3 separate regions of the Homo sapiens genome follow, and all the other regions are linked to region 1. The links come from fine-mapping of genetic effects on gene expression. A gene starts in region 1. Each other region holds a variant in brackets. All regions are shown on one strand. Distances are from middle to middle. Region 1 holds the start of MFSD1 (major facilitator superfamily domain containing 1). Region 2 overlaps LOC100287290 (a long non-coding RNA gene). Region 3 overlaps MFSD1 (major facilitator superfamily domain containing 1).

Region 1 (11,140 bases):
GATCAAGCTCATTTTTCACTGCTTCTGGGCTCCCAAGCAGAACCAGACACTCCTCTCTTGTCCCATACTAGAAACCTGCACTGCTGGTGGGGAGAGGTGGGGGTGGGGGTAGACCGGGGAGACAAAAGAAGGCATTGAAGGGGTTTACATCTTGGCTTCCAATATGAAGGATGAAGATAAAGAGAATGTTTTGGCTCACACAGCACTCAGGAGTTGTAGGAAGTAAATGCACATGAAGACTGAATCCAGAACTTGGATTTTTAGGAGTTACCCTATTCTCTTTTCTGTCTGTGTGGCTAACTTTGCTCCAGAGGCTGCAACCACCCCCACACCTGTGAAACCAGGCTGGTCAGTCTAGTGACCTTGTGTCCAAGATGATAAAGCCTATACTTACACCCCAAATTGCTTTCACTTTCCCATCACTTGATAATTATAAAATAAGTGCAATTTGTTTGGCTAATAATAGGTCAACACAGTTAGAATGAGCAAGTTCATTGTGGACAGGAACAGGTTTTTCCACAGCAGTAAGCTTCCTTTGTTACACCACTAGGTGGTGTAACGTGCTCCTGATTTAAGGGATTCACTTATTAAGCAGTTTTCAAGCTGGCCCTGTTCTAGATGTTTGAGATACAAAGATGCACAAGACTCTTAGGAGGTCAAAGTGTGGTGTATATAGTTTCAGATTTACAGAAAAGTTGTAAGGCTAGTAAAAAGAGTTCCCACATACCTCTACCCAGACACCTGAAATGGCAACATTTTACCATGTTTGTTTTATTCTCTCTCCATATACATATATATCTAATATATGTACATGTCCTTTGACTTCTAAATATCTCAGTATGTGTTTTCTAAAAACAAGTTCCTCCTCCTCCTCCTCCTCTTCTTCTTCTTCGTCTTCGTCTTCGTCGTCTTCGTCTTCGTCTTTTCTGAATTTTGCTCTTGTTGCCCAGGCTGGGGTGCAATGGCTTGATCTCAGCTCACGGCAACCTCCGCCTCCTGGTTTGAAGCGATTCTCCTGCCTCAGCCTCCCGAGTAGCTGGGATTACAGCTATGCGCCTCCACACCCGGCTAATTTTGTATTTTTGGTAGAGATGGGGTTTCTCCATGTTGGTCAGGCTGGTCTTGAACTGACCTCAGGTGATCCATCCGCCCTCCTTGGCCTCCCAAAGTGCTGGGATTACAGGAGTGAGCCACCACGCCCGGCCACAGGTACCTTCTTTTATAACCACAGTCCAGTAGTCAAAATCAGAAAATAAATGCTGACAGAATACAAATTACTTACAGAACTTAGATTTTGTCAACTGTCCCAATAATGTTCCCTATAGCCAAAGAAATCCTGGATCATGTGTTGCATTCAGCTGTTATGTCTCTGGAGTCTTCTTTAATCAGGGCAGTTCCTTAGTCTTTTATGACACTGAGAAATCAGGCCAGTTATTTTGTATAATATCCTTCAATTTGGGTTTGTTTGATGTTTCCTTATGCTGAGATTTAGGTATGATGAGCTTTTGTTAGGTAAATCACAGAGTTTTGTGTTTTCAGTTTCAGTGCATATCTGGGGGCACATAATGTCACTTTGTTCCAATACTGGTAGTATTAACTATGATCACTTGGTTCACGTATGTGGGCCAGGCTTCTGCACTATTTTTTCCTTTGTCATTAATAAATCTCTGGTGAGGAGCTACTTTGAGATTATGCATATATCCTTTACACTTCAAACTTTTATCCACTAATTTTAGTAACTACTGATTCTTGCCTGGATCAGATATTATGATGATGCCTAGCAAACAGTGGTTTTATATTTCCATCATTCCTTCTACATGTATTGATTGGCTTTCTATTACAAGGAAGAGCATTCCTTTCTCTTCTGTTTGTTTAATATTTATCCCAGGTCTAAGGGAAGAATGTACACTATCTTCACTGCCATTTAACATTGAACTGGAGATACTCACTACTGCAGTTAGTAAAGAGAAATCAATTGAAGGCAGGAGAACTAGAAAAGAGTGAGTAAAACTCTTTGTCTTTGCAGATGGTATGACAGTACACCTGGAATATCACAGAAAATTAACAGCAAAACTAAGTCAAACTAGAGAAGAATTCAATAAGTTGGCAGGACATAAACTTAACATACATAAATCAACAGCCTTCACATACATAATCAGTAACATGACATAAAGGTAGAGAAAACTACATTTACAAAAGCAACAAAGAATAATAAATTTAACAAGAAATTTGTAAAATATATATGAAGAAAACTTTAAAACACTCTCAAAAGACATGAAATAGTTTGAAAAACTGGAACACCACTTTTTTTTTTTGTATGTGATGACTTAACATTAAAAACTAAAGTCTCCTTAAGTTAATTTTCAAAGTTCATTAAAAAAATACCAGTTTTCTTATGGAGCTAGGCAAGCTGATACTAATTTCAGGTGGAAAAATATGGAAGAATATCCAGGAAAACAAAAATAAAAGCTATGAAAGGGGACTACATCTACCAGTCACTAAAACATATTCTAAGGCCTCTAAAATAAAAACAGTGGTCCTTGTGCATGACAAGAAAGAGCAGTACAACCGAAAAGAAAGTCCAGAAGTAAACCCAAATACATATGGGAATTTAGTATGCAATAAAGGTGGCATCTCAAATCACTTGGACAAAGATGGACTTAACAATTGGTTAGCCATTTAGAAAAAGATAAAAAGTTTGATCCATACCTCATACTAGGCAAAAGAATAAACTCCAAATGGGTCAGGAATCTAAATCTAAATAATGAAACCATACAAGTACTAGAAAAAAAAATGGGTGAATTCTTCTTTAACCTGGGTACAAGGAAAGGATTTCTAATTATGTTTCAAAATCCAGATGCAATAAAAGAAAAAATTGATAAATTTGACTATATTCTAAAAAAAACCCTTTTCATGACAAAACAAATAAGCCAAAAACTTCATAAAGACAAAAGACAACTGTGAAACTGGGAGAAAAAGGGTAATACCCCATTAATGTACTGTTAAAATTGAGACGAAAGACTTCTTTTGTGCTTAGGATATGAAAAGCTGCAATGAACATCTTTCCTTTCTCAATAATGAGAAAAACTCAGATGAACTACAAAGTCACAACCTTAACTGAAACCATCAGACACAGCTGGGTTGCAAGGTAACCAGGTAGCCTGAACTCCTGGGAAGGGCAAGCCCCCAAGGAGAAGTTCTCAGGCATGCACAGGGGAGTTGGCACTGACTAAAAAGCTCTTTCCTGTGTCCTTCTCTGGATGCTCAGTTTGGTGGGTACATTACCTTTTTACCTTTTTTTTTTCTGTAGGTTTCACATTTCTATAATAATTTTTTGAAGCCCTGAGAATTAAAGCAAGTTTCCACACTCCTAGAACCAGTTTTAAACCCATTCAATTAATCAACTGCCTCAGTAAAACTTGTTTTGAAAAACCCCTCCTTTCTCAAAGTCAGCCAATGACAGGTTCACTCCAATAAATTCAGTGGAGAATTAATAACAGTCTTACCAGAATATCTACTCTTCTACAGGTGATGGCAAACCCTTTTGCCTCTGAAATGCACCTATTCCTGAACTCTGTATTCCCCAAAGCTCCATAGAGCATCAGCAGCCAGCTCTGCTTGGGGAGACTGTGCCGACCCAGCATAGCTTTTCCTTATTAGAGTACACAGTAAATCCAGTTTCGTTGCTTTTTTTTATTTTTATTTTTTTTGAGGCAGGGTCTTGCTATGTCACACAGGCTGGAGTGCAGTGGTGCAATCACGGCTGACTGCAGCTTCTATTTCCTGGGCTCAAGTGATTCTCCCACCTCAGCTGGGGCTACAGGCGCATGTCACCACACCTGGCTAAGTTTTGTATTTTTGGAGAGATGAGGTTTCGCCATGTTGCCCAGGCTGGTCTCCAATTCCTGAGTATAAGCAATATCCCCACCTCAGCCTCCCAGAGTGTTGGGTTTCCAGGTGTGAACCACGGTGCCTGGCCCAGTTTTGTTTCTTTTAGTTCAAATATTGATGGTTGACTCATAATTCCTTGACAAACCAAAGCTCCAAACTAACTAAAAAGATCATTTTGATTGTTGTGCGGGCAACATATCATAGAAATGCAACAACGGAAGTAGAGAGACCAATTGAGGCTGTTGAAAATCTTGCGTGAGAAGCAAACCCCTGGAGTTATAAAATAAAAAGAGAGTTTGGCATTAGAAACTATATGGAAATATTACCGTAAACAGAGTCAAAATAAATATATGCAGCTCCTATCAGCAACAAAGAGCCTATTTAATCAATAAGAAAAAGCCTCAATAATTCATCTGGAAAAATAAGCAAAGGATATGAAGATTATTCCTAGAACAAATATAAGTGGCTGTTAATCACATAAAAGAGGTTCAATATTCCTCAATATAATAGAAATATAAATTGAGACTGCACTATGATAGCAAATTTTCACTGATCATATTTGCAAAGACCAAAAATCTGGTAACAAGCTTGATTAGGATGGTGTGGCAAACAGACTGTTTCCAAGATCGTCCTCAAGAATAAGAACAATTTCTAGGCCACACTGCTGGGCTGAAAGGAAGAAAAACAACTGTGTGTAGTAACTCTGGAAGGATGCAAAATAATCTGATAATGATGATTACTTCCCAAGAGTACTGGGTATAGGGAGGCAGGAAAGACTCGCTTTGAACTTTATTCTCTTTGGTACTGTTTGAATGATATACACCAGATGTATCTCTCATCAAAATTAAGCAAAATAAAACAATTTAAAGAGTCTGTTGTGATTGTCTGGGAGAGATCATTCTGGTAAGAGGAGTAGTGATGGAGAACATGCACAATGAGGGTATATTTTGGAAGAGAGTTGACAAGACATGCTGAGGGAGTAGATGTAGGAGATGAAGTAAGCCATCAAGGATGACTGCTAGACTTGCGGATAGCAAGTGGTAGAGAGATGTCCCATTTACTTTGCTAAGGAACACTTAGGGAGGAATAGGTATAGCATGGGTGAGAGAACTCAAGGATTCTGTTTTAAATGTGATAAGTTTGAGATGCCTATTAGTCATCCACATCATCCACGTGATATCAAATAAACAGTTGGAATGGTAGTCTTAGGCTGAAGAAAGGAGTCTGGAATGAAGGTATTTTAGAGGCAACAGCATATAAATCCACACTGATAAACAGAAATACAATGTAAGCCACATAGGTAATTTTACATTTTCTAGCAGCCACATAAAAAGTAAAAATGGGTGGAATTAGTTTACACACACACATATATATATATAAACTAAAATAAAATTATATATATATAATTTTTTTTTTGAGATGGAGTCTCCCTCTGTCACCAGGCTGGAGTGCAGTGGCGCGATCTCGGCTCACTGCAACCTCTGCCTCCCGGGTTCAAGTGATTCTCCTGTCTCAGCCTCCTGAGTAGCTGGGACTACAGGCGGGTGCCACTACGCCCAGCTAAATTTTGTATTTTTAGTAGAGATGGGGTTTCACCATGTTGGCCAGGATGGTCTCGATCTCTTGACCTCAGGTGATCCACCCACCTCGGCCTCCCAAAGTGCTGGGATTACAGGCGTGAGTCACTGTGCCCGGCCAGTTTTAATATATATACATTTAACCTAATATCTGCAAAATATTATTTCAACATGTAATCAGTATTCAAATTAGGAGGTTATTCTATTTTTCATACAAGTCTTTGAAATCTGGTGTGTATTTTATACGTATTGCACATCTCCTTTCCAACTATCCACATTACAAATGATCAACAGCCACACATGGCTACCTACTGGACAGCAGAGGGAGGGTATTTAAAGTTATGGGAATGGATGAGTGGAAGAGAGCTCAGGAATGGGTCTTGCATCATTGAACATCTAGATTTTGAATAGAAGAGGAGGAGCTGACAAATGAGACAGCAAATGAGATAGGCCAGCAAAGTGGGAGGAACACAAGGCAAGTATGGTGCCAAGGAGGCTAAAAAGGAGTGGCTGTCAATTCCATCAATTGATAGAAGTTGAGTAAGATGACAGAGAAGTGACTAATGTATTTGGAAAGATGGAGTTATTACTCCTCTCGGCAAGACAGTTTTATTAGATCGGGAGCTCCTCCACTGGAGCTGAAGAGAGAATGGACTGTGAAAGTGGAGATATGTATAGACATCTCAAAGGCAGCACCTGATCCTTGACACTCTCTCCTACCTCCTTCTCTCTCTAAATTTTGATCTCTATTGGCGGCCCAAGCTAGAAATCTGGGAGACACTCTCAAGTCTTTCCTCTCTTTCAGATCGCATAGGCTATTATTTACAGTTATTCCCATTTTACCTCCTAAATAATTACTGATTTTCTTCTGTGCCATTCCTGCTTTTTATTGCTAACAGGCCCTCGTCATCTCTAATCGTTACGACTGCAGCATCTTCCTAATAATCCTCACAGTTTTCAGCCTCTAGCTTTGACGCCCTCAAAATTCTGTTAGTAAAGCCTGAGGGCTCCCAGAAAGCGACGATGGTGCTGTGCTGGCAGACCGAATGTTTTTTAAAACACAAAGCTTGCAGTCCTGCTGCTGTGCTCAAAATCCTTGCATGGCTCTTCTTGAAACAGGTTTAGTGTTTCTACTCGAGTTCCTTCTCTGTCGTTCAACACAAACACATACACACCCAGTTCTGTTTCACGCTTTTGTCTTTATTATCCCTCGTAACTGCCCGCCCTGCAACCAACCCGCTCAAACAAGCACCCTGACTGGCGCATTCTTACTCATTCTAGCCTGGGTTTCAACTTCAAGGAGCTTCAGCGCCCCTCACTCCCTTGCCCTGAAAGCTGGCTAAACTACGCACCTTTTCTCCCCTTTTGAAATGACCTTTCCAGATATTTCTATGGAATTCAGTGCCATTTTCTGCCGCTGTTCTCACCACATTCATTCATCATGTTTAGTTTTAAAAGTACCAGATTCTGTCGATTTCTCCAACTGAACTCTGAAATCTTTGAGGTCAGGGAGCTTGCCTCATTCTATTTTGTATTCCCAGTACGTGACACATGGCTGGACACACCAGAAATTGTCCGATCAAGTTTGTGGGTATTAAGAGTGGTCAAAGACGCTGGGGAGGGCAGTGCTGGGAGAAGGGCAGCGCGCGTCTTGGCGACCCCAGCGCAGTTCGAACTACTCCGGAGTCTGGTGTGGAGCCGAGAGGGAGCCCCGCACTTTTCTCCCCGCGGAGCTGCGCTGAGTCTGAAATAGGTGTACGCGTCAGCGGGGCAGGAAACGGAAAGACAGTGCAGTAATTGGTGGAAAGCTGGAAGTGGGCACCTCGAGGGCCTCAGCCCCACGAACACAGTCACCCAGGAAAAGCGAACCGCGCCAGGCCCTGTCATCGACCGCTGGGTCCGTCCTCCCAGCGCTCGCGGCCGCTCACATGGGCGTGGCCCTGCGTGACCTGCCGGGGCGTCACGTGAGCTCCCGGAGTCATGTGACCGCCGTCTTGACAGTGTTCCACGGGCGCTGCTTCCTGCCTGGGTTTGGAGTTGTCACCACTTTCCCCTCTCCGTCTCCTGCGGGCGCAATGGAGGAGGAGGATGAGGAAGCGCGGGCGCTCCTGGCAGGCGGCCCTGACGAGGCCGACAGAGGTGCCCCGGCCGCCCCTGGAGCCCTGCCGGCCCTCTGCGACCCCAGTCGCCTGGCGCACCGGCTTTTGGTGCTGTTACTGATGTGCTTCCTTGGCTTTGGTGAGCCGGCCGGGTGGGTTGGGGCTGATCTTTAAGGAATTCCCGACTTTCTCTTCGAGGTAGATCGTCATCGTGGTCACTGGTGCCACGGGGCCTCAGCGCAGCTTCTGTCTTAAGCTCCTGGGCCTCCTTATTTTCCCCTTTGCGATCGATTCCAGCCACACCTGTGGATGTTGCTAGTTACTCCGCGTCCGGAACGTGGAGGTCGAGGGACTGAGCTGGGCGAGTTTTGTGGCACTCCTTTGCTCTTCAGTAAGTCCCAGGGGCTAGCGACTCGCCCTAGAGGCGATAGATATGAAGGTAACTCCAGATTTTCAAGGTTCCTCTTTTGGCACACGTGGTCGGAGGAAATTCAGAAAGCTTTAACTGTTCCTAAACAACTTTTGTTTGTTTGGTTTTAGGTGAGACAGGGGCTTGCTCTGTCACCCAGCCCGGAGTGCAGTGTTGTGAAAGTGGCTTACTGCAGCCTCCACCTCCTGGGTTCAAGCAATCCTCCCGCCTCAGCCTCCCGAGTAGCTGGGACCACAGATGGGGCGCCACCACACCCGGCTTTATTATTATTATTATTTTTAGACACAGGGTCTTACAATGTTGTCCAGCTTTTAAAAAACGTGAATGATTTCGTCGGCAGTCTTCTATATATTTTTCACCCTCTTTGAGAAAATGTATGAGTGTGTCTTGCTGATAGCTTCAGTGAATAGATATTGTTCTCTTAATCTTCCACTCTGCCACTGTGAAGCAATCATATTGGACGGGACTTGTGGTAGTCTTGACAGTGGTTGGTTTCTCTTATGAAATCTGATGTCTCCGAAAACAGTTTCTTGATAATTAGAAAAAAATTTTCCTTCCTATGTTACAGTTTTTAATTTATTAAGCAAAATTCTAATATTAATTTGGTATGAATGTGTTTTTCAGGAGGCTAGCTGGAGCCCGTGTAATCAGCAGGTTTAAGAACATTATGGTGGATAACTATTCTAGCGCTGAACATATAAGTAGACATGAAGGATGCTTTGGGCTTTGGTTTCCTTGCAACTCCTTTTTCCCCCCTCCCCTGTTTTTTAAAAGATGATGCCCATCCATTAGCTTTAAAGCAGGACGTTGAATCCTTAAAAGAGATTAAAGCAGGGTTTAGAAACAACCACCACCACAACAAAGAAAGAACAACAATAAAACATTAAAAAAAATGGTCCCCACTCAAGCAGACAGACAGTTTTTGGTAAATTCTGGTTATCTGCCTAGAATTCAGAAGCCAGATTCATTCCTTTCTAATGACAGTTTTTATTGTCATTAGAACCAATAGCCTCGTGCACTTGTAGAGTTAGTAGAGCTATGGAGGCAATATTTTCTTGTAGCCTACGAAGGAATCTCAATTATTTTATCTTTAAAATAAATCCGAGTGCATGGTCAGATCTCTCCCTACTTCTCTCTTTCCAGTTCCCCCAAAGACATGTTTTAATTTAATCCTTTAGAATTCTCAGTTTCATTTTTTTTTCACTCCTGGCCCTGTATTCACTAAATTATTTGATTTTGGGTAGTTTGTAGAATTAGAGAACTTGTTTCAAATATTGGTTTTGTCAGAATGGTTACACTCCATTCCTTTGTCCTTAAGCTAACATTATTAGGAAACTGATGAGGTTGTAAAGTTTTTAGTGTATGTGTGTTTGTAAATAAGGAAATAAATAAAATATAGATGCTTCATGAAGATATTAATAAAATAGTATATGTGTGAAGCATGATGAAAGTAAAATAGAAAAATATTTAATTGTTGGTTGTTGACTTTTTAATTCAGGTTCCCAGTATTTGCTGTGTATGAACACTACCAATTTATGGAAGTTATTTGATATAACTTAGAAAATACTGGTGGATAAGGAAGTGGTTCAGAAATATTTCTGTAGTGTCAACCCGTAGTATCAGCATTTAAAATTGTAATTTCAGTAGCAACTGCAACTTGAAACTTTTATATGGGAAGTATTATTACTTATAAAGTATTTGCTCTTTTCTAGGCAGCTATTTTTGCTATGATAATCCTGCTGCCCTTCAGACTCAAGTTAAACGAGTAAGTTGATTTTTCACTCTTGTTTCTTTTGTTTTCTTTAGAGCAAGTGTAGCGGTGGAGGCATTATCAACCCTCAGGTGCCCTAGTCTCACGTGTCCGCTGAATCTATTTTGACATCTGTAGTCACCAAATCCACAAGTTGCAAGGGGTGTTCTTAAGTTGAAATGAGTTACCACAAATAATTCATTTATAGCACATATGTGACTTGAAATTGTTTCAGACCTTAGATAAATAATTATGTGGTATTTCCACAGTATTGTCAAAAATATGAGCAGGTTTTTGTTTGCATTTCACTCTCCCAGTGCTTAGTCACCCGAATGACAAATGATTTGTTAAGATAGCTTTTTGCCTTCTTAAATAGGTTTTAGTTGTTATTTTGTTTTTTAAATGTGGATACTGATTGCAGAGGATTGTCCATGTCAGGATTTTTAGTCTGGTTTTGTATTGTAAGAACATACTTGATATTTACAGTTTTTTGGGTATTTAGTCTCTTTTCTTTGTAGGTTCTTTTTAACCTTTGGACAGGGAAAATGCATAGGTTGACCCTTTTCATTCTAGAATGAAAGAGAAAGGAAGTAGGAGGAGCATGCTTGAGGGGATGGAGAGGGTAGGGTAGGTAGGGATAGGCTAAGATTATCCTTGTATATGTGGGCAGAGTCCCCAGTGCAGGTAGTATATAGAAGTTATAGTCAGACAGAAGTGGTCCCTGTAGCAGGGTGTCTGATCCTGGAATCCAGGAAGCCCCTGAAATGGCATGTGAACTCAAGAAGTTCCCAGGGTTCCCAGGTGTGACCATTTTCCTGGGCCAGGGGCCATAGCTTTCATGAGATTCTCAAGGAAGTTAGTGAGACTTATAAATGGTTAAAAAAAACTTGCCCTTTACAGAAAGAAGAATGTAACTACTTTCCACTTTAGATTGTCATATTTTGATTTGTTAGTTGCTAAACTTAACTGTTTGGAAAAAAATAGTTTTATTTTCTTTTCATATAGGATATGCAAGTGAATACCACGAAATTCATGCTGCTGTATGCCTGGTATTCTTGGCCCAATGTAGTTTTGTGTTTCTTTGGTGGCTTTTTGATAGACCGAGTATTTGGAATACGGTAAGCTTGAAAAGAAACTATGGGTAAATCTTACCTGATTGTTAGAAAAATACAGAGCTAGATTAAGGTATTTCTAGAAAGAGCTGAATAAACTTCTGTATTAACTAATAATTTGCTTGAGTTTTTTAAAAAAATGATTTTTATATCTCTGGAGTTGGTTTTTGAAACGTGGTATTTCAGTTAAGGTCAGGACTAGTAAATGCTGATGGTATAAGGTAACTCAGTTATCCATAGGAAAATTATACTCACCCTTGGGATCAGGTAAACCAGGTTCT
Region 2 (11,140 bases), 41 kb before region 1:
AGAGCAGGCCCCAGGCAACAACCATCAGAAAACGGAAGCCTCACTCCTATCATCCCAGGGAACTGAATTCTGCCACCACATGAGTTTGGAAGAGGATCATGAGCTCCAGCTGAGAGCAGAAGTAGGGCCTCCGCCTTGATTTCAGCCCCACCTTGATTTCAGCCTACTGACACCCTGTATAGAGATACTGACTTCTGACCTACAAAACTGTGACATAATAAATGTGGGTTTTTTAAACTGCTAAATTTGCGGTTATTTGTTACCCAACAACAGAAAGCATTGTAAACATTCTTGCTGTTTGCAATTAATGGCAAGATTGTTTCTTCCTTTCCAAACCTTATACATTTTATATTTATTCCTGGCCTTATTTTCCTGGCTAAAACCTTGAGTTAAATAGAAGGGACGATATTGAAAATCCTTAAATTTTTCTTGATTGTAAGGTAATTATTTTTTATTTTTATTTTTTTTGAGACAGAGTTTCACTCTTGTTGCCCAGGCTGGAGTGCAATGGCTCGATCTCGGCTCACGGCAACCTCTGCCTCCTGGGTTCAAGCGATTTTCCTGCCTCAGCCTCCTGAATAGCTGGGATTACAGGCATGAGCCACCATGCCTGGCTAATTTTGTATTTTTAGTAGAGACAGGGTTTCTCCATGTTGGTCAGGCTGGTCTCGAACTCCTGACCTCAGGTGATCCGCCCGCCTCGGCCTCCCTAAGTGCTAGGATTACAGGTGTGAGACCACTACAGGTGTCTACCCGGCCGATTGTAAGGTAATTCTTCTAATATGTCATCATTAAATGTTTTTGTAATCTTTTAGAGAACATCTTTGATGAAATCATGAGCTTTAACTTCTCTTCCTACTTTGCTAAGAGTTTATTTTCCAATTACGAATGGGCTTTAAAGTTGTTATGTGTGTTTTCTACAGCTATTGAAATAATTATATGTTTTTTCTTTTTTAACTGTTAAGCTAGTTTCTACGTTGATAGATTTTCTGAAGTTAAGCCATTATTTCATTCTTGGAATAAAACCTAAATTTAAAAATGTAGTACATTGCCAGTTTTAGATTGTTAATGTTTTATTTAAGATCTTTGTTATCTTTCTTCAAAGGATTAGTAAAACAATTGTAAAGCCTTCAAAGATTGTTGATCTTTTCTTTCCCTCTTAAATAGACTTTATTTTTTAAATCAGTTTTAGGTTCATAGCAAAACTGAGCTGAAGGTACAGAAATTCTCATATTTCCTCAGCCTCTCCCACTATCAACATCCTGCATCAGAGTGGAACACTTATTACAACTGATGAGCCCACATTGGCACATCATTATCAATCAAAGTATATAGTTTACATTAGAGTTCACCCTTGGTGTTGTATATACTATGGGTTTGGACAAATGTGTAATGACATATATTCATATATTCACCATTGTAGTATCACACATAATAGTTACCCTGTCCCAAAAAGTCTTTGTGCTGTTGAAAATGATTTCTTCTTTAACATCTTTCATCTCTTCCTACCAATCCCTGGCAGCCACTGATCCTTTTACTGCCTCCATAATTATGCCTTTTCCAGAATGTTGCATAGTTGGAATGATGTCGTATGTAGACTTTTAAGACTGGCTTCTTTCACTGAGTAATATGAATTTGTTTTCTCCATGTCTTTTCATGGCTTGGTAGCTCATTTCTTTTTAGCACTGAAGAACATTTCATCGTCTGGATGTGCCACAATTTCTTTATTCATTGACCTACTGAAGGTCATCTTGGTTGCTTCCAAGTTTTGGCAATTATGATAAATAAAGCTGCTATGAACATTCATCTATGGGTTTTTGTGTGGCCATAAGTTTTCAGCTCCTATGGGTGAATACCAAGAAGCACAATTGCTGAATCATATGGTAAGAATATTTTTAGTTTTGTAAGAAGCTGCCAAACTGTCTTCTAAAGTGGGTATATCATTTTGAAAGATTGTTTTTGTTGTTGATTTTTTTTTGTAACTTTTATTTAGCTGAATAGTCTATTTTCGTTATGGAACCATGCATTTTAGTCATTTATAATAATTATTGTGTGGATTTAATATACTTATAATGTGGGTTAACATTTGGCAGTGCAAACCCATCACTCATCCCAATGTATGCATTATTTTCTTCTTCAAAATTTGTGATGCTGAAGTATTATTCTATAAACCCCTCTCACCCCTTTGCCCCCTAGTTGTTGATTTTTTAAAAATTGATTAAATTTTTAAATTATTGTTTGTCTCTAAATGCTTAACAGATCTTTTCAGGTTTTTTATTCTTCTTGAGTTTTTAAAATATTTCTCTAGAAAATTGTGTACTTCATCTACATTTTTATTATAATATTGTTGTTCATAGTATTCTTTCATGAGGTTCTAAAATTTCCTATACCAGTATTTATATTGAATTTTTATTTTTTATTATTGTTGATATGTGCCTTTTCTTATTTATTATTTGCCAGGTTTGTGAAGTTTTTGTTTTATAAGTCTTTGTCAAGAGCCAGCATTTGGTTTTATTAACTCTATTTAGTTATCTTTGTTTTCTTATTTCATTCATTTCTGTTCCTGCATTTATTAGCTCTTTTCTTCTACTTTGTTTTGTTTATTAGTTATATAGCTTCCTTTTTTTTTTTTTTTTTTTTGTTTTTGGAGACTGTGTCTCACTCTGTCGCTCAGGCTGGAGTACAGTGGCGTGATCATGGCTCACTGCAGCCTTTGACCTCCCAGGCTCAAGCAATCCTCCAACCTCTCAGCCTCCTGACTAGCTGGGGCCACAGGCACATTGCCACCATGCCCAGCTAACTTTTATATTTTTGGTAAAGATGGGGTTTTGCCATGTTGCCCAAGCAGGTCTCAAATGATCCTCCTGCCTTTGCCTCTCAAAGTGCTGGGATTACAGGCATGAACTACTGTGTCTGTCTATTAAATCTATTTAGTTATCTTTGTTTTTTATTTCATTCATTTCAGTTCTTACATTTATTCTTTCCATTTTATTTATTAGTTATATGACTTTTTTTAATTTTATTTTTATTATTATTATACTTTAAGTTTTAGGGTACATGTGCACAATGTGCAGGTTAGTTACATATGTATACCTGTGCCATGTTGGTGTGCTGCACCCATTAACTCGTCATTTAGCATTAGGTATATCTCCTAATGCTATCCCTCCCCCCTCCCCCCACCCCACAACAGTCCCCGGAGTGTGATGTTCCTCTTCCTGTGTCCATGTGTTCTCATTGTTCAATTCCCACCTATGAGTGAGAACATGCGGTGTTTGGTTTTTTGTCCTTGGCGATAGTTTGCTGAGAATGATGGTTTCCAGTTTCATCCATGTCCCTACAAAGGACATGAACTCTTCATTTTTTATGGCTGCATAGTATTCCATGGTGTATATGTGCCACATTTTCTTAATCCAGTCTATTGTTGTTGGACATTTGGGTTGGTTCCAAGTCTTTGCTATTGTGAATAGTGCCGCAATAAACATACGTGTGCATGTGTCTTTATAGCAGCATGATTTATAATCCTTTGGGTATATACCCAGTAATGGGATGGCTGGGTCAAATGGTATTTCTAGTTCTAGATCCCTGAGGAATCGCCACACTGACTTCCACAATGGTTGAACTAGTTTACAGTCCCACCAACAGTGTAAAAGTGTTCCTATTTCCTCACATCCTCTCCAACACCCGTTGTTTCCTGACTTTTTAAAGATCGCCATTCTAACTGGTGTGAGATGGTATCTCATTGTGGTTTTGATTTGCATTTCTCTGATGGCCAGTGATGATGAGCATTTTTTCATGTGTTTTTTGGCTGCATAAATGTCTTCTTTTGAGAAGTGTCTGTTCATATTCTTCGCCCACTTTTTGATGGGGTCGTTTGTTTTTTTCTTGTAAATTTGTTTGAGTTCATTGTAGATTCTGGATATTAGCCCTTTGTCAGATGAGTAGGTTGCAAAAATTTTCTCCCATTTTGTAGGTTGCCTGTTCACTCTGATGGTAGTTTCTTTTGCTGTGCAGAAGCTCTTTAGTTTAATTAGATCCCATTTGTCAATTGTGGCTTTCTCTTGAACTGACTGTGAAATCATTAGTTTTTAAATTTTTCTTCGTTTTTGAATATATCTGAATTTTTCCCTCTAGGTTCTGCATTACCTGCATTCCATATGATATGTAGCATTTTCTTTGGTATCCATTTCTAAATACAGTATTTTGTTATTTTTTAAATGATTTATTCTTTAACTCATGAAATATTTAGACATGTATTTCTTATTTTCCAAATATGTTGGTTCATTTTTTATTTGTTTTGGATTTTTAATTGTATTTTATTATGGTTTGGGAACTTGATCTGAATGATACTGAGTTTTTATTTACTGAGATTCCTTTTGATGTTCATTCAGTGGTCAAGTTTTATGAATGTTCAGTTTTTTCAAAAATACTTCAAATGTGACAAAAATATGTCTGTAATGTCAGGTGCATGATTCCATTATCTCACATTTTTGAGGTCTCTCTTTATGGCGCTCTTACAAGGTTGGTTGTCTTTCATTAGATCACAGGGCTTTCTGATTCCCTGCCTAGCTCTCAGTTTAATTTTCTGAGTAAGGATTCCTATAATCTGGGGAAAATGTAAATATGAATACCATTCCCTTAAGTGGAATAGGTTTGGGGGTTTGATTTTATGTGAAAAACTTACTCTTTTTTATCCGTAGAAGCAGGCAGATTACAAACTCCCTTGACACCCACGGTGTTGAGGGAAAATGTATGTTTATGTGTATAATTTTTCTAGCCTCCTTTTCATAGAGGGGCTTCACAGGGAGTTTCAAAACTTGTATTGCATTTATTAGAAATTTCAGAGGCTAATCCCTACATGAACAAGTGGATGGATGATAGAGATGTACCAATTATAATTACATATACATACAGCTATATGTATATATTATATATGCAAACAGATACATATGCAACACTATAACTTAGATTTTCACTGTAATGTATGAACTAGCACCTATTTCAAACACTGCTTTTGAACTTGATAGAAAGACATTGGTTATATATATTTTTAAATTATATTTTAAAAATTCTATCAAATTGTCTGCAGTCATTAATTAGGTTATTCAGAGCTGCCTCAGCAAACTTATTCTGCAGTTGAGAAAATGGGAACTGAATGGACTTCTTTATCATCAATTTGTGCCATTGTCTACAGAAACTTAGATCAGCTTTGACTAGCTTTTTCCTTCTGCTTTTTTTCAAAGAAGATTTTTATAATATGTGGGACAGGGACTGTTAATTTTCTCTACTACAACATTACATTCTACTGAGCTGATTGCAATTTTATTTAATCTTCCATCTTTACAGATGGAAGGCCTCCAAAGGCTTTAGTAGGCCCCAATTTGGGAATATAATCACTCTGAATGAAGAAACCAAAGTAAGTAAACTGTGTGGTATTGGGGGAAATTGGGATTGGGGTGAGGTAAAGTCTTTTTTTTAAATGTACTAAAAACAAGATCTCCCTTGACTTTTGATAAAGGCAAGTTATCCTAAATGCTTAAACCATTTGACTTAATTCTTGGTAAGGATGCCCATTAAATTTGATTTCATCCACTATAGTTCTGAGCTCAATTGCTTTTTGCCTCATTTATTTTTCTTAGGCCCTGAGAGAGGATGGGTAGGAGCTCTCCACGAAGGAGGCCCAAAGTGGTCCGTTCCTCCACGCTGGCACTCTCCTCACTAGGTCAGCTCATCTTCTTCTAACTCAAAACAACACATTGTTTCTCTCAAGAAAAGTGATTTTTGAAACCATTATTTTTGCTATTTGACAGGCAGGATTGTTTGTTTATACTAACTCCA[A/G]CTCCAATCATAATACTGTACACATGGTGCTCAAGAAGCTGGGTGGTTCAGAAAGAAGTAATGCTTCCAATGATGGTGGGCATTTTCCAAGTGTTTGATCTGTGCCAGATGCTGGGCTAAGAGCTATTGGGCTCTTATTTGATCCACAGGCCAATTCTGCAAGGAAGGAGCAGGTCATTTATTCTGATAATCAGAGCTTGTCAGGGTTTGGATCCTCATTTACTGTTGCTCTACTGGTATACACTGCCCAGATGATATCCATTGTTATTATCCTCTACTCCTCATCCTGATCTTGACCTTGAAATGTGAGCCAATGTGATTACCTGAGAGAATAATTCATTAATGCATAAAAATAATTTATAAAAGTGCTTTTTCTTGAAAAGATTCCTTGAATGCCATTCTAGGAACATTTTCTTCTCATCATTGGCAGTGTGGGCTGGGCACGGTGGCTCATGCCTATAATCCCAACAATTTGGGAGGCAGAGACAGGAGGATTGCTTGAGTCCAGAAGTTCGAGACCAGCCTGGCCAACATAGTGAGACCCTGTCTCTATTCACATATTTAAAAATTAAAAGAAGTTTGGCAGCGTGTTCAGGAAGGACAGGACCTACTTCGATCATCTTACGACCATGAGACAGGATGGAGAAGGGAAGAAGGTGAGTCGTAAGCTATAAAGAAAGATTGATTTATGGGATAAATAAATGAATGACCAGAACTGTAGCTTCTGTTCCACAAAATGGTTTGTAATAGAGAGGACACAAGCTTTGTGATTAGACCAGGTTTGAAATAGCATCCCACTGCTTGCTGATGGCATCCTGGACATGTCATACAGGCTCTCTCAGCCTCAGTTTCCCTGAGGAAAGAAAGAGCAGAAAAGAAAAAATCTTATGGTCAGTGAAATCTCATCCTATCAGAAAAGTAGGTTACAACAACATGGTCTGTTAAATCAGAGCATTATTGAGAATGCAAGTCCTCAAAGATGTACCTTCACTCTAGCACTGCTAACGATACAGGAGAGTAGTGGGGGTGCTTGGCCGTTGCTCACTCTCTTGTGTGTCCCCCTTTGCTCAGAATTTGGTCTCTATAAGGAGCCAGGGCCCCTTACAGGGAAGCTGATTTCCTGTCTTAATCAGAGAAAACCTCAGGATTGATCTGGAGCAAAATAATGATTTCAAGTGGTTTAGGAACCGTGATGAAAGGACATAGGCATTGACCTAGAGAGCTCCTGCCTGCCTTTGGAAATGTGAACGTGGCCCTGAAAATGATAATTATAGTTCATTGAAAGAGTTGAATTTGTAAAAAGTTCATAATATTTATAACAGAAAAACTAAAAGTTCAATAAAAAAGGAAGTCATAATAAGAGTGTGGATGCACTGCTGTGTTTAATTTTGTGTTGATTGTGGTAAGATGAGATGAGTAATCCATGTGGGGTTTCTCCTTCTGTTGGGCTACGTCTACTTGCCCACTTTGGGTGTGGATGTGCACGTGTTTCTGTCGATGTGGAGAGAAGGAGAGCATGGCTGTGTTTGGCTCTGGCCGCGTCGGGTGGGCTCTGTGTGTTGGTAGGAAGGTAGGCTGTGGGCTTCCTGCAAGGCAGTGGTGGCACTGGCTGGTCCCTTTGCCTTGTTTCACACTCCTGCTTTAGGTCTCAGCTTAACGGTCTGTTTCTCAGTAAGCTTGCCACCCAGACTAGTTTACCTCTCTCAGAACCTTTCCCTTGAGAATTTATCACAATAGGCAGTTGTGCAGTTATGTGTATGATTATTTGATTAACGTCTTCCTCTCCCACTGAGCTGTGATCTCCATATGGGCAAGGCCCATGTCTGTTTTGCTCACTGTGTTATTTCCTAATACCTGGCACAGGTACATCACAGGCTCTCAATAAACGCTTGAAACATGAATCAATGGCATAGTGCTGTACCATCCTTTATAAATGTAACATTTGGCTTCATTCCCCACCAGTACAGCATATAATTAACATGCAAATTTCTACCCCTAACACAGTAAAGGTTTACTCTTGAATTTTATTCTCTATAACTTAACAGTAGTTTGATTACTTTAACTTTTGCATCTCTGTCCTCCAGAAAAAGAGAATAATCATAGACTCATGGCACTAAAGGGGACCCTGTTATCTCAACTGGACAATTTAAACATTAGACTAATATTAAGCAATCCAGTCAAGATAAATGAGCTTCCTAAAGTTTCGGCAAGGCAAGGAGGTGGGGAAGGGAGAGCGCCCTGGGTTGGGGGCAGCATGTGCAGAACTCTGCCGTGGGACGATGCCCATCTGGAATGCTTGAGGAGCTCATAAAAGGACAGAGTGGCAGGAGCAGGATGGGGAAGGTGAAGTGGGAAAGTGGGCAGAAGTCAGATACCCCTCTGATGGGAATGTTCCCTTGCCTCCAGTCATATGTTGAAACCTAATCCAAACGAGTATTAAGAGAAGCTCACATGAATGGAATTAGTGCCTATAAAAGGCACCCAGGGAACTCATTTTTCTCTTCTGCCATGTGAGCTTACAGTAAAAAGACTCCTGTATATGAGGAAATGGCCCTCACCAGACACCAAATCTGCCAGTGCCTTGATCTTGGACTTCTCAGCTTCCAGAACTGTGACCAATAATTTTTTTTTTTTTTTTTGGTAGTTACGCAGTCTAAGATACTTTGTTACTGCAGCTCAAATGGACTAAGACAGATACCAAGTTACAAAGACCATATTAGGTATTCGGCCTTTGTTCTAAGAGTGATGTGGGGCCATTCAAATGTTCAGGTAGAGGTGTGTGTGTTCAGACTGTGTCTTCAGAGGCTCACTGACTGCCCTGCTGTCAATTGTGGACAGGCAGAGTGGACGCACAGTACCCTCAGTGAGGAGGGTATGACTGCAACACTTAGCACTCAGTCAGGATGGAGCTCCTCCTCCCCCATGCTGTCCACCACCTCAGAGCACATCAGGTTACGTGATATTTGTAAAAATGACCTTTCTCAGCAACGCAGTGCACTGGACCCATGGTGGGGCCTTGAGGGGCTTCTAAGGTTTCAAAAGTACCCCAGGAGTGTTCAGTATTATAATTATTACTGACTCAAGGGGGGTGAGGCCTCCTAAATCGCAATGACCACATCCTGCTACACCCCTCATATCCTTTTTGAGTTCTCTCCAACCCTAACTCTACTTTTCCTGAGAACATGATCCTCCAGAGCCCAAGGGAGTATGGCCTTTGGCCGTATCTTGAGAAATCTTAATACTTTATAAAATTCAATTCTGTTTCCTCCTACTGACCTGCAGAACTTTTACTTACATCATTTGAGGATTAATTATGAAATTTAGGAAGATGTCCAGGTAAACAGATACGCAGTCTTTCAAAATCTCAATAGTGAGAAGTGAAGTAATTTTTCGCTGGTGGAATTATTAGTGGAGCTATTTTTTTTGTAGTGTTAATTTTTCATCACAAATAGTAGGACACCAACCTTCTGGAAATTCAAGCTAGTTTTAAGGAATTGGAGTAAGATTTAGGACTACATGTATCACTACGTCTTAGATTCAGCAATTAAAACAGTTTATTTTGGGATACATTGTATAAGATAGTACTTTGTTCTTCTCTAATGAAACAGAGATTCTTATTCTATCAAAAGATATCAAATTCATTCTTTTTGCCCTCTTGGAGCCTGGAGAGGCCCATGGGAACAGGGCTTCTGAAACAGCAAACATGTCTGCAGGGCTGTGCCCTGAGGCCACTTTTGCTAGAAGTGACATTTCTGGAACCAGAGGGAGCACACAACTGTTCTTGAAATTGAAGGTGTTTATGCCCGAGATGAAACTGAATTTTATTTGGGAAACAGATGTACTTATGTGTGCAAAGAACAACACAGTGGCCCTGGCAGCAAATCAAACAAAACCAGAGTCATCTGGGGAAAGGTAACTTGTGCCCAAGGAAAGAACAGCGTGGTTTGTGCCAAGTTCCAAAGCCACCCTCCTGCTAAGGCCATTGGGCACAGAATCCATGTGATGCTGTACCACTGGAGGATTCAAATTCATTGAAAAGTAAATAAATACAATTTTAGGTTTGTTAATTTGAAAAAACATGTGGGTATCTAATTTCTATGTGTTGGCAGGGCCAAACAGTGAAACACGGAGCTTCAAGGCGAAGGCAGCTTGTTAGGGTCCCTCCTTCTGACCTGCCCTTGGCAGCACATAGACAACCTGCCTACGAGGTCCTTCCCCCACTGCTGCACTGTCGCAGGGGGTCATTGATAGGTGTCTTATTTTTTATTTATTTTTCAGACAAGGTCTCACTCTGTAGCCCAGGTTGGAGTGCAGCGGCACCATCAGAGTTAGCATGGGATGAACTGTTGGAGAGAGGGCTGGACAATAGGACTGGACTAAGGGATCTTAGTCCTTACTAAGGAATATAGGCTGCAGTGGGCATCTGTTGTGTACCTCAGCAAGAAGCAAGGACCAACTCTTAGTTCTCTGAGGTGAATTTTCGGGAGTGATGGGGGAGATGTTTTGAGGACATCCTGAAACCACACCATAGGTGCCTCTGTAACCAAGTGGAGAGAGGCCCTTGGTTATAGAGTTAGGAGAACATGGATGCCTCTGGTACACAAAAAACCCTGCAGTGGGGGCTTAACTTCCATGCTTGGGAAGGTCCCCACTTGCCTTCCTGGTCTTGAGGGATTCTCAGATGGTGGCCTGCCTGCAAGTGGCTCCTCCATTGTGTTCTGTTAGGAGGGAGGGATGTATTGATGGAGACTGAGTGGAAGTGTTTTTGAAAACTTGTGTTTGGCTAAAAATAAACGATCAGACTTAAATGCTGCTTGGAAATCATTCTTTGTTTTACCAGTCAACTTTCCCTCCTATTCTTCATGGTGGTTACCTTAATATTTATTCTGTACCAACCTCCCAACCTAATTCCTCCACCATCACTTTAAGCAACCACTCATGCCTTTTACCTTTCAGAAAAAATAAAAGCCTCTTCCTGCCACCAAACTTACAAACTGACTAGCTCCACCCCATTCTCCTCTTTTTGTTGTGATGGAAGGAGAGTCCCTCCTCCTCTCCAGGGTGAATCCCTGCACATGCACTCTGTGCTCTTTCTCCTCTAGCTTCTCCCTTTCTATAATCTTCTCTTTCTCTATTTCTCCTGCCCCTTTCTTTCATTTCATTGTTTTAAGCATGCTTAAGTGTTGCCCATCTTCAACCAGCAAACTAAGCAACCAACCAACCACTTCTTACATGGAAAAACAGGCATTCTTATTCCTGGTTAGTAGCATGTAAATTGGTGCAACTTTTTGGAAAGGAAATTGGC
Region 3 (10,936 bases), 28 kb after region 1:
GGATGATGGACTGTTGGCATGATATTGCCTTGATTGCCTAATCTGTAACTCCTAATAAATACTGGAAAATTAGCTTGCCTGAAACATTGGTAAGAACTTTTTAAAAATTACCTTTATTTTCTTACTTGGTCCTTGACTGCATCTTGGGCCCCAGCCAGTTACATATGCATATAATATGATGACAAATGAAAATGGTTAAGACAGCATGTATCTTGTCGCTAAAAGGATACTCTTAGGGCAGAGACTTGTTTTGTATATTTTGAATACGAATTTTAGCCTAATAACAACAAAATTTGCTTGAATATATATATATTAACTACTCTGTCACTTTTGCTAATCTGCATTAAAGGAAAATCACCTTTTGGTTAATGTAAGACTGTGACCTTTTCTGCGTTGCTTTCTGTAGTGTCTTCTGGGACTCTCCTACTCATTGCTTGCCTGTGCATTGTGGCCAATGGTGGCATTTGTAGTTCCTGAACATCAGCTGGGAACTGCATATGGCTTGTAAGTATTTACGCTGTGGATCGTATATGTCTGTCTCTGCTATGTCAATTTAATTATCATATAAAACTCCAGATCTGAATCTAGTCGTCATCCAGCCTCTGGGGTAGCGCTGAACCTGGAGATAACTGGAAAAGTCAGTAAATCTATTTAAGATACTGTTGTGGCCACAAAAGAGCCTCCAGCAAGAGGGCTGGAGTAAGCTAACCCAGAAGAGGTCCTTGCTGACATTATAATCTCCCTGCCTGTTTATGTGAGGCTTCTTAGTGAGAAGCTGAGTCCAGTTCCTGGCACAGAAAGGCAGAGGGGGGAAACCGCACCTGTGGTTGATATTCACATGGCCCTTCTTTCATTCAGCACAAAGGTATTGAATCCACATTGCACTTAATGAGACAAGCTCCCTTACCTTTGAGCAGTCTAGTAGTGGAAATAGTTATGGGATAAAAACCAATCCAAAATCTAATCAAGTCATCCCTGGTGGAAAACATCTCTGAACACAAATAGTATATGGTTCACAGATACTAATATTTATAGTGAAGTGTTAGCCTATGTGTGAAGACTTTTGAAAATGAAATGTGTCTTTATATTTCTTCCATTGTAGCATGCAGTCCATTCAGAATCTTGGGTTGGCCATCATTTCCATCATTGCTGGTATGATACTGGATTCTCGGGGGTATTTGTTTTTGGAAGTGTTCTTCATTGCCTGTGTTTCTTGTGAGTATTCCGTATGACAACATTTTGTTTCTTTTACTACATAACAGAATGTTCTTATTTTTACTTAGGCATAGCTCCCAGATTTGCCTAATTCTCACCTGTGAATTAGAATTTCATAGCTGGTGACTTTCTAGCCCTCTGAAGATTCACAGGCATTTTTTAGGAGATTCCTATCCTTAAAGGCAGTGATTGAGTTGGTTTCATATTCTGTTTTAACTATTTACAGTTTAAAAAAAAAAAGCATTTTCCCACTTAAAGTGGAACAATTTGAAGAGTCCTGAGTATATCCTTAATGTGACTATGTGGAAACGTTGGTGTGATTTAGGTGTGAGTACTCATGGTTATTCATTAGGCAGTTTTAACTGATTTTTATTTTTAGTCCGTAATTTAGTTTTTACCTGTAATTTCATTGGTTTGAAATTGGAAGCATTAGGAAACTTGAAAAATATATAAAAATAATAGCATTTGTCCATAGGTAATCTTTACCCTACATATAAATTGTGTTTATCTGAAAAGAAAATTCTCCTTAACACATCAAGATGTCTTTTATAGTTCAATATTGTGCTTAAAATGACAAACCACAGTGATGATTTTATCAAACTTTGTTTTCATTTATAGGGAATAAAGACCATCCATACCTGAAGTGTGGTATTTGCAGATAATTGCTTATGAGTTGCCTTGAGTGCATTTTATTATCTCATAAATAAACGTGCTTGTTTTAGAAACAAGGACGTCAAGTTTTAAAAATAAATGTTTAAAAAAGTGGGTCATATAAGAATTTCAGACATTAAATCATAAAATGTTTTTTGTCTATTTTTGTTGTTGCAGCATGTGGTTAAATGTCAGTCCACAGTTCAACATGTATTTGGGTCTCAAAGCAAACAGTGTGCCGTTTGAATATGTTTTTCTGTTATTTTATTTTATTATTATTACTTTTTTAGAGACAGGATTTGTCTCTGTCACCCAGACTGGAATGCAGTGGAGCAGTCACAGCTCAATGTAACTTTGAACTGCGGAGTTCAGGTGATCCTCCCACCTCAGCCTCCGTGATAGCTAAGACTACAGGTGTGCACCACCATGCTTGGCTGGTTTTTAAATTTTTTTGTGAAGATGCTGTCTCACTGTGTTGCCCAGGCTGGACTTGAACTCCTGGCCTCAAGCGCTCCTCCTGCCTTTGGGATTACAGGCATGAATCAAAATAATAAGATAATAGGCCTGCCCTATTATTTTAAAGTAAATTAAACAGTGTTCTTCACTTATTAAAGGAAAAAGCCAAGGGAAAACTTGAATTTTGAGGTCTTGATTGATTTGAGTCTAATGATCACATTTTAATGTTTGGTTACTTGAAATTTGTAAAATGGACATGGCATTTTCAGACTTAAAGCCCCCAAAAGACTACTATTTGGCTTCCTCTGAAATGATAAACAATCGGGGGCTGGCAGGAGTTTTTGGTAAGTCCTGCAAAGGACCAGCACTGAGAAAGGGAGAGGAAAGAGGGGCAGGGCTGGGCTGTGGCTGGGTCGGCTCCCTTTTTTCTAGGGGCCTCAACTTCTTTGTTTCTGGCCTGCCACCCCTGGGCTGAGTAGCCCTTGGAGAAAATAGTGTGTAACTTATTTTTAGTGCTTTTGGAAAATAAAATAATGGGAATAATATTTTTATTTAAAATAGCAATTAATAAAGGTTTGATTGTGTCTAAGCTTTGCTTTGTGATTATGATTACATAGGAATCATTGAGAAGAAATACATATTTTAAGGGCCCTATGTTTTTTCACTCCTAGTGTCACTTTTATCTGTGGTCTTACTCTATTTGGTGAATCGTGCCCAGGGTAAGTAGAAGATCTGATATTTGCTTCTTAAACCGCAGTGGATCATCTTGTGGGGTCTCTGGGTCTGCCTCTTTGGGGGCCAGTGCTTTATTCCATGCAGTAATGACTTTCTGTTCATAATGATGGAAACACATTTGATTATGTAATATATAATTATGTTTTCTGGGCCTTCATATTTATTAAGATTGCTGTCATTTTTTAAAATCTAGCCAGATGAGTTTCTTAATAATATAAAATCTTAGATGTTATTTTTATATTAACATAAAGAAATATAGCATTTAAAAAGTAACCTAAAGCCCCTCTGTGTTATTGTCCTACGTTAAAAGAAATCAGAACTAAGCAAATTTATAGCTATAATTTACATTTTAAGGTTCAAGATGTTTGGTTTAGAATTAGAAATTACAGATTTTTTTTCTTTTGCTAATTCGTACTGTATGCATTAGTGGATTTTTGTTGTTGTTCTTGATAAGATTTTGATGTTGTCATTAGTAATTTTTCTAACTGCTTGCTCCTAAAGAGTTTTATATATTTAGTAGAATATAATATATATGCTGTGTAAATAATTTCAGGTCATTTCCTTTTTTTTTTATTTTAATAGTTTTTTTTTTCTTTTCTTTTTTTCTTTGACAGAGTCTCACTCTGTCACCCAGGCTGGAGTGCAGTGGTGCGATCCCAGCTCACTGCAGCCTCAACCTCCCAGGATCAAGTGATCCTCCCACTTTAGCCTCCCAAACAGCTGGGACTATAGGTGTATGCCACCACAGCCAGCTAATTTTAAAATTTTTTCTAGATATGGGGTCCCCCTATGTTGCCCAGGCTGGTTTCAAACTCCTGAGCTCAAGCAATCCTCCCGCCTTAGCCTGGGATTTACAGGCGTGAGCTACCACACCTGTTCATTTCCTTTAATTTCTCTTAATTTTCACTATTATTGAATATTAATACAGTGTCCTAAGTAACAACACTTGAAGCAATACATAAGTCCAAACTTAAAAAAATGCTTAAATTAAGGGGTGATTATTTATATCACACAAGAATTTCATTTTTTCCCTTTGGGAAGGTTCCAGTAGATAAACCATTACTTTTTCATCGTCGATAGCTTTTTCTATTACTTAAAATACAGTGTATCTATGCAAATGGTTGCATGTATGTATGTATGGTTGAAATTTACTTACTGATAATACTTATATGGAAAAGATCTATGTTTATTTGTGTTTTAGGTGGGAACCTAAATTATTCTGCAAGACAAAGGGAAGAAATAAAATTTTCCCATACTGAGTAAGTATTAAAAGGGTAAAAAGTTGTCTTTATTTTTGAAATCTTAAATATGAGCATTTCGTTTCAAGGTTTGGGCTTTGAAGTTTTTTTTTTTTTTTTTGATTCCCATGCTTGTCGTCCAGGCTGGAGTGTAGTGGCATGGTCACAGCTCACTGAAGCCTCAACTTCCTCAGCTCAGGCAATCCTCCCATCTCAGCCTCCCAAGTAGCTGGGACTACAGTTGTGTGTCAACATGTCTGGCTAATTTTTTGTATTTTTAGTAGAGATGGGGTTTTGCCATGTTGCCCAGGCTGGTCTAGAACTCCTGGGCTCAAGTGATCTGCCTGCATCGGCCTCCCAAAGTGCTGGGATTACAGATGTGAGCCACTGCGCCTGGCCTGGGCTTTGAACTTCTAAGAGATTAGTTTTCCTTGAGTTTTGAGAGCTAGCTATTATGTGTGTGGAACTATTATAACAACATTCTTGTTTGCTTCAGAAAATTTAAAAATGGATATTAAGGCTTGAAACGAAGAAAAAAAATAATTCAATTTAAGTTGTTCTCTGTGAGACAGAGAGAGACACAGAGAGAGAGAGAGGGGGAGAGAGAGAGAGAGAGAGAGAGAGAGGGGGAGAGAGAGAGAGAGAGAGAGAGAGAGAGAGAGACAGAGATCGATCTATATTACTTGTAATTTATTGGAGGAAAGGCCTTCGTCCTGAGGTCCTGGACTGGGCTTACCCTTCCATTCTCTCAGATATTTTCTTTTTCTTAAGTAGTTGATAATTTTTCATCTTCTTCTGGTACCAATATGTGGTTCTGTGTTCTCTGATTCATTTGGAAGAGATTTAAGTATATAGCATGGTGATTAAGTTAACATTTCTTTTTCTAAAAGTATGTACTGAAACATAATAGTGATTCTGTTTCCTGTTATTTCTAATATTTTTAGACATTGAAGTTTTTATGATTTTAAACATTTATTTGTAAATATATATACCATGTGATTGTAATTGTTGTGACTTTTGACTAGGTTAAAATCTGGTAGAACAGTCTGTTTTTTTGAGATGGGGGTGGTTTTGGTCATATTAAATTCACTTTTAACAAATACATCTTAAAATAATCAGAAGTATGAGTTTTGAATATCTTTATGATAGTCATATTATGTTAAAAGTTTGGAAACAACATAAATGTCTTAGAGTAGGGAAAATGGTTAAATATATCATGACACATCCATGTGATATGTTGTTAAAACCATGTTTTAGAAGGATTTTTAATGTCATAGATGCTTAACATGCCGTATGCTAAGTAAACAAAAGATAAAAATGCAAATATAATATCCTAATTTTATTCAAGAAAAAGTATGCTGTCACATGCTTGTTTTAAACCCAATTACTTATGTATAATAGAAAATATACTACTAGAAATAACCTCATATTAATTGAAACCTCAGAATATTAATTAAAAACTCAGAATATTTTTCAAATTTTCTACATTGATCTTTTGTGACTTTTAGGATCAAGAAGAGTTAAAAAATTGCTCAGAAAAAAAATGTGTAGCTTAGTATTTGCTATTACATGTCTTGTAATGCTTGGTTTTCATTTTATAAGGCAGGTGAGCTTCATGTTTTTTTCTTCCTCTTTGGTAATTTATTGCGTTATGTTTTGCAGATGAGAAGTTAAAATGAATGTGTCATGAGAATGGGCTTAACACATCGTTGGTTTGAAAACTTCCATTTTTAAAAATTTAGAGTTTAGTCATTAGAAAAAATAATGGACTGGAAAGTTATATTTATATCCAAATATACCTATTTCAAAGTGTATTTGTGA[GGCCTGTTTTA/G]GCCTGTGTCTTTTGTATTGTGTGTTGCTAAAGAATTCTACTTTTAGTAGGCTAATCAACAATGAAAGGGTTAGAAAATTGCTGTGGAACATCCAGGTGAACTTCAGGAAAGACAGTGAAAAATGGAAAACGTTGGAGCTTCTGTTGAGATAATCTTCATTAGGTATATATCTTAGGGATACAGCCTTTTCTTTATCTTATAGCAGGAAAAAAAAACTTTTGAGGGAAATAGAAGGGCTGCGTTACACAAAATAAACAATGGCATTGTCATAGGCCTTCCTTTTACTAGTAGGGCATAATGCTAGGGAATATGTGAAGATGTTTTTATGAAGTCTCTTTCTGATCACGAACAATAGCTTGCGCTCTACTCTGTAGTTATGTGGATTGCCGAGCAATGACCCTTTTCAATTTCTTATTTCTGTGTTACTGAGGACCCTAATCACTTAGGGATGTAATTTTATAGTATAAACTTTCTGTACAGTTTTTCTTATAGTCTAATAAGTAAAAAGTGTCCTTCAAATTATGATAATTGCCTATGTACATGGATAAATTAAAACACTGCACACGGAGTACTTGATGTCTTCTTTTGATTTTAAAAAATACAAAAACACTGATTTTAACTTTTATTCATGCAGAAGATTATCTAGAAGAAAACCCAAGTCAGAATAAAGAGAACTTGCCCAATTACAGTCACTGAAAGATTATGGGGGTAGCTTTTTCTCCAGAGTAGAACTTTAAGTAACATATGTGGTTTTTTTTATATTAAGTAAAATATGAGTATGAAGCTTCTCTGACAAACTTTAAATACTTTTTAATATTTTTCAGCCTTAACATATTATTTGTTAAAGTCAAAGAATGCAGATATTTTAGACAAGATATTAAACCAATGTATTTAGCTGATTATATTGTTTAAAGCACATGGCATGATATTGTAAGTGTAAATGTTTGGGAACAGATTGAAAGTACGTTCCTTATGCAAGGTAGCTTGGCAGCTTTATTTACATCTGTTTTTCTGACTTACAGTTTATTGTGTTGATATGACTTGTCTCTGTGTCCCTACCCAAATCTCATCTCGAATTGTAATCCCTATGTGTTTGAGGGAGGGACCTGGTGGGAGGTGACTGGATCATGGGGGCAGTTTCTCCTATGCTGTTCTTGTGATAGTGAGGGAATTCTCATGAGATCTCATGGTTTAAAAGTGTGGCACTTCCCCTTCACACTCTCTCTCTCTCTCCTACCACCATGTAAGATGTGCCTTGCTTCGCCTTTGCCTTCTTCCATGATTTTAAGTTTCCTGAGGCCTCCCAGCCATATGGAAGTGTGAGTCAGTTAAACCCCTGTAATTTACAAATTACCCAGTCTCAGGTAGTATCTTTATGGCAGTGTGAGAACTGACTAATACATGTGTCATTATTGAGTTGTTAGTTCTTTAGGCTCTGACGCCATATGACTGTTTCAGCACATGGGTGTTGAATACCTCACAAGTGGGGGAGAGTGCAGGAAGTCCACACTACTTCTGCTGGAAGGCCCATGTGGCCTGGCCTCTTGCCTTGTCTCTCCACCGCCTCTGTGCCCCAGCCACAGTGAGCTGCTTACATGTTTTCAAATGGGTTGTGTTCCTTTCCCTCCCAGCGGCTTTGTCCACACTGTTCCCTTTGCTTAGAATGTTTTCTCCAAGGCTCTCTAGAACCTGTTTTTACCTGATTTATACCAGAAAACCTTAGCCCCCAGCCCAGAACCATTCTTCCTCATGGAAGCTCTTCCAGATCCTTCAGGGTGTATTGGGTTCTTCTAAGTTGCTGTGATCTTGCAGTTTTCCTTTTTAGCTTACCTCAACTTAAAATAATGAAGAATCTCTGATAATGTGGGTGTGGGTGTCTCTCTCTTCCTTAAATTGGAAGCTCCTTGAGGGCAGGGACTGCGTCCGTTTTGTTATCGATGATTATATTGATAGTGCCTAGCAAAAGTAGGCACAAAATAAATATTTTTTTGAATGATATATAAAAAGAGTAAATTAGAATAACCCTTTTGGAGGATGAATTGGCAATATGAATAAAAAGACCTAAAAGGGGGATGGTGGTGGGCTAAATGCCTTTTGGCTTAGCAATTCCATTTCTAATAACTTGTCCTAAAGAAACCATCAGACAAATATACATGTAAATATATTTTAAGAAAGCGTCTTCACTGCCAGATTTTATAATAGCCTAAAGTATAATAGAAAGCCACTCTAATTTACAATAATAGGGGATTTGTTAAGTACATCATATTACATACCTAAAGTGAAATATTAAGTAGTCATTAAATGGTTTTGTTAGAGAACATATTGACATGGAATAATGTTGATGACATTTTCACACGGAAGATTCATAGTGGTGCCATTTTTATAAAAACAAATATATCTGCATGATATGTACACCAGTGTCTCTGAATGATGAATTTCTATTGGCTTATTTATGTTTTCTGATTTTTTTTCACAATAGCTCTTTATTGTGTAATGAAGGTTTTAAAAACCCCACAAAGAATATAGTTCAATGCAAGTTTGAGTCCTGCTGTTTTAAAGTGATAATGTTCAGAAGGGAGGAAAGGAACAGGTAGTGTTTTTCAAAGAACTCTGGGGGTGAAGATGGGAGTTCAACAGTGCCATGAGTTAGAAATCAAATTTGCATTGCCAGGAATAAAATTGCACGTAAAGGGAATTTTCAGAGACAAAATGGAAAAGAATGGTGTCAAGGATAAACGAAACAATGCCTTTATTTTTTAGTCCTAGTATTCACTGGTAGCAAACAACAGCTCCAACTTGTGTGCATGCTGCTCATGATATCTGGAAGGCCTCAACTGCAGCCTCATATCCTTTGCCCTCTTCCATTTGAGTGTTCCTGAGTGCCCCAGTGGGGATTTGGTTGTAAGCCTTCAGCAGTGATTTGCTGCCAAAAAGTTCATGGAAGAAAGCTTTGAGTTTTTGTAAGAAATACTAAAAAGCCCTGACATCGTGTAGGCCAGACAGCCAAACTTAGTATAACTTATTAACATTTATTTCTCTCAAGTATATTAGTGTATATGGTCATGCATTCCTGTGCACATATCTTTTCTTCAGTGGATCTTTATCAGTTCCAGGTTCTGGCAGCTGCCTGCTACAGTAATCCACTGTATTCCCAAAACTGATCTTCCCCTTGTAGATTTGGCAGATTTATTGTGTAATGCAAATCAGTGGACCTACAGGGCATTTCATTTCAGATTATCATGTACTTGTAGGCATTTGTCATTTTGTCTTTTTGAAGAGGATCACCTTCGGTGTGTGTCTTCCAAGTTTTACCACGTAGTAGCTTTTGTGTTTCCATTTTCTTATTAGCAAAATAGAAGATCACTAGAGTTCCTTCTATAGCACTCTCATTCTTAATTTATGAGACATAAGGATATGGCTAATATATGTTAGATGTGTATTGGTGGATGACCTAAAACATCTACAAATTTATCTCTCCATACCTTGTGTAGTTGATGGGTTGGGCAAGCTGGGCCTTCCTGGATTGCATTCACATTACTGTGGTAAGTAAATGAAGCACCCTGGAGGGGCAACAGAATGCCCTCTGGAATTTCTAAAAGTCAATGAGTTATCCCAAACAGCTGAAAGTGTGGGCTAACTTCTTGCAAGTCTTGCTCCCTCCCGCCAATATTGAGGCTTGTTCAGTTTTCCAAGGAAAATCCGATTATTGTGGGGGTTCTATGTCTTACCATGTTCAGATAGTTTTTAACCTTTGGAAGCCAACCCTGTCTGTCCTGGGGAAGAGGTAACGAAAAATTTCACGACAAATGGGAAACCCCCACCTCCAGCCCAGTAGAGCTCAGATTTCACAGGGTAAAGTGAACAAGAGATGGACAGTGGATAGAGTGGGTGGGAGGAGGATGAGAGAGAGGCTGGGCTGGAGCTGGAAGCAACAGGGTTCAAGAACTGGGAAGAGAAAATGGCTGGAGGTAGTAGGAAGGTGGGCCTGGCAGCAGGTCATCCCAGGATTTTAGAGTCATGCCTATGAGGTAAGTGTTAGAGGGAAGGTAAGAGTCCTCTTCCGGCTCTGGCAGGGTCCATGGAGGTAGAGGCCAGGCTTAGTGGATGGGAAGGTACAGGGAATGGGCCTGAGGACAATCATATTATCTCTTAAAATGTTTTCCGGCCGGGCGCGGTGGCTCACGCCTGTAATCCCAGCACTTTGGGAGGCTGAGGCGGGCGGATCACAAGGTCAGGAGATCGAGACCATCCCGGCTAAAACGGTGAAACCCCGTCTCTACTAAAAATACAAAAAATTAGCCGGGCGTAGTGGCGGGCGCCTGTAGTCCCAGCTACTTGGGAGGCTGAGGCAGGAGAATGGCGTGAACCCGGGAGGTGGAGCTTGCAGTGAGCCGAGATCCCGCCACTGCACTCCAGCCTGGGCGACAGAGCGAGACTCCGTCTCAAAAAAAAAAAAAAAAAAAAAAAAAAAATGTTTTCCATGACTTCTATTTTTTTTTTAGAATTCTGTGAATTTTAATAGAGATTTGTGCTATGACACCACAATTAGGATGCAGAACAAATAGTTCCTTAATGTTTCAAAGGAAAAATATTATAATTGCCTTTTAAGATAATGTATGTATTCTTTTCATGTGGAAATATTTGAATTATCTTAGAAAGTTCTAGTTTATTTGTCAGCACTTAGATTTTTAAAATGCTTTTTGAGTCTAATGACTAAGTACGTAAGGTTTTATGATCATGCTACTTAGTATGTTTCGTAGACAATTTTTCACCTTTTAACATTTCTGAAATTGGGATGTGTCTTATCTT

Evidence for each region. PIP is the estimated chance that this variant, and not a neighbour inherited with it, causes the effect.
Region 2: its variant is fine-mapped to the expression of MFSD1 in whole blood (TOPMed, PIP above 0.99).
Region 3: its variant is fine-mapped to the expression of MFSD1 in whole blood (INTERVAL, PIP above 0.99).

What each region holds. Positions count from the first base shown.
Region 1 is chr3:158,794,610-158,805,749 of GRCh38, forward strand. MFSD1 (major facilitator superfamily domain containing 1) reads left to right here and starts at 7,445. Exons shown (of 16, transcript NM_022736.4): 1 at 7,445-7,706; 2 at 9,710-9,762; 3 at 10,753-10,865. The coding sequence starts at 7,544.
Region 2 is chr3:158,753,893-158,765,032 of GRCh38, forward strand. All of the region lies in intron 4 of LOC100287290 (a long non-coding RNA gene), which reads left to right. It also overlaps the pseudogene RPL35AP9. Among named protein-coding and RNA genes, the nearest start is that of RARRES1, 27 kb to the left of the region's middle. RefSeq lists a silencer at 6,741-6,936. The variant A/G (reference allele first, on the strand shown) is at 5,836.
Region 3 is chr3:158,823,022-158,833,957 of GRCh38, forward strand. It overlaps MFSD1 (major facilitator superfamily domain containing 1), which reads left to right. Exons shown (of 16, transcript NM_022736.4): 12 at 407-504; 13 at 1,103-1,215; 14 at 2,994-3,041; 15 at 4,259-4,316; 16 at 5,958-6,695. The coding sequence ends at 5,961. Among named protein-coding and RNA genes, the nearest start is that of MFSD1, 26 kb to the left of the region's middle. The variant GGCCTGTTTTA/G (reference allele first, on the strand shown) is at 6,117.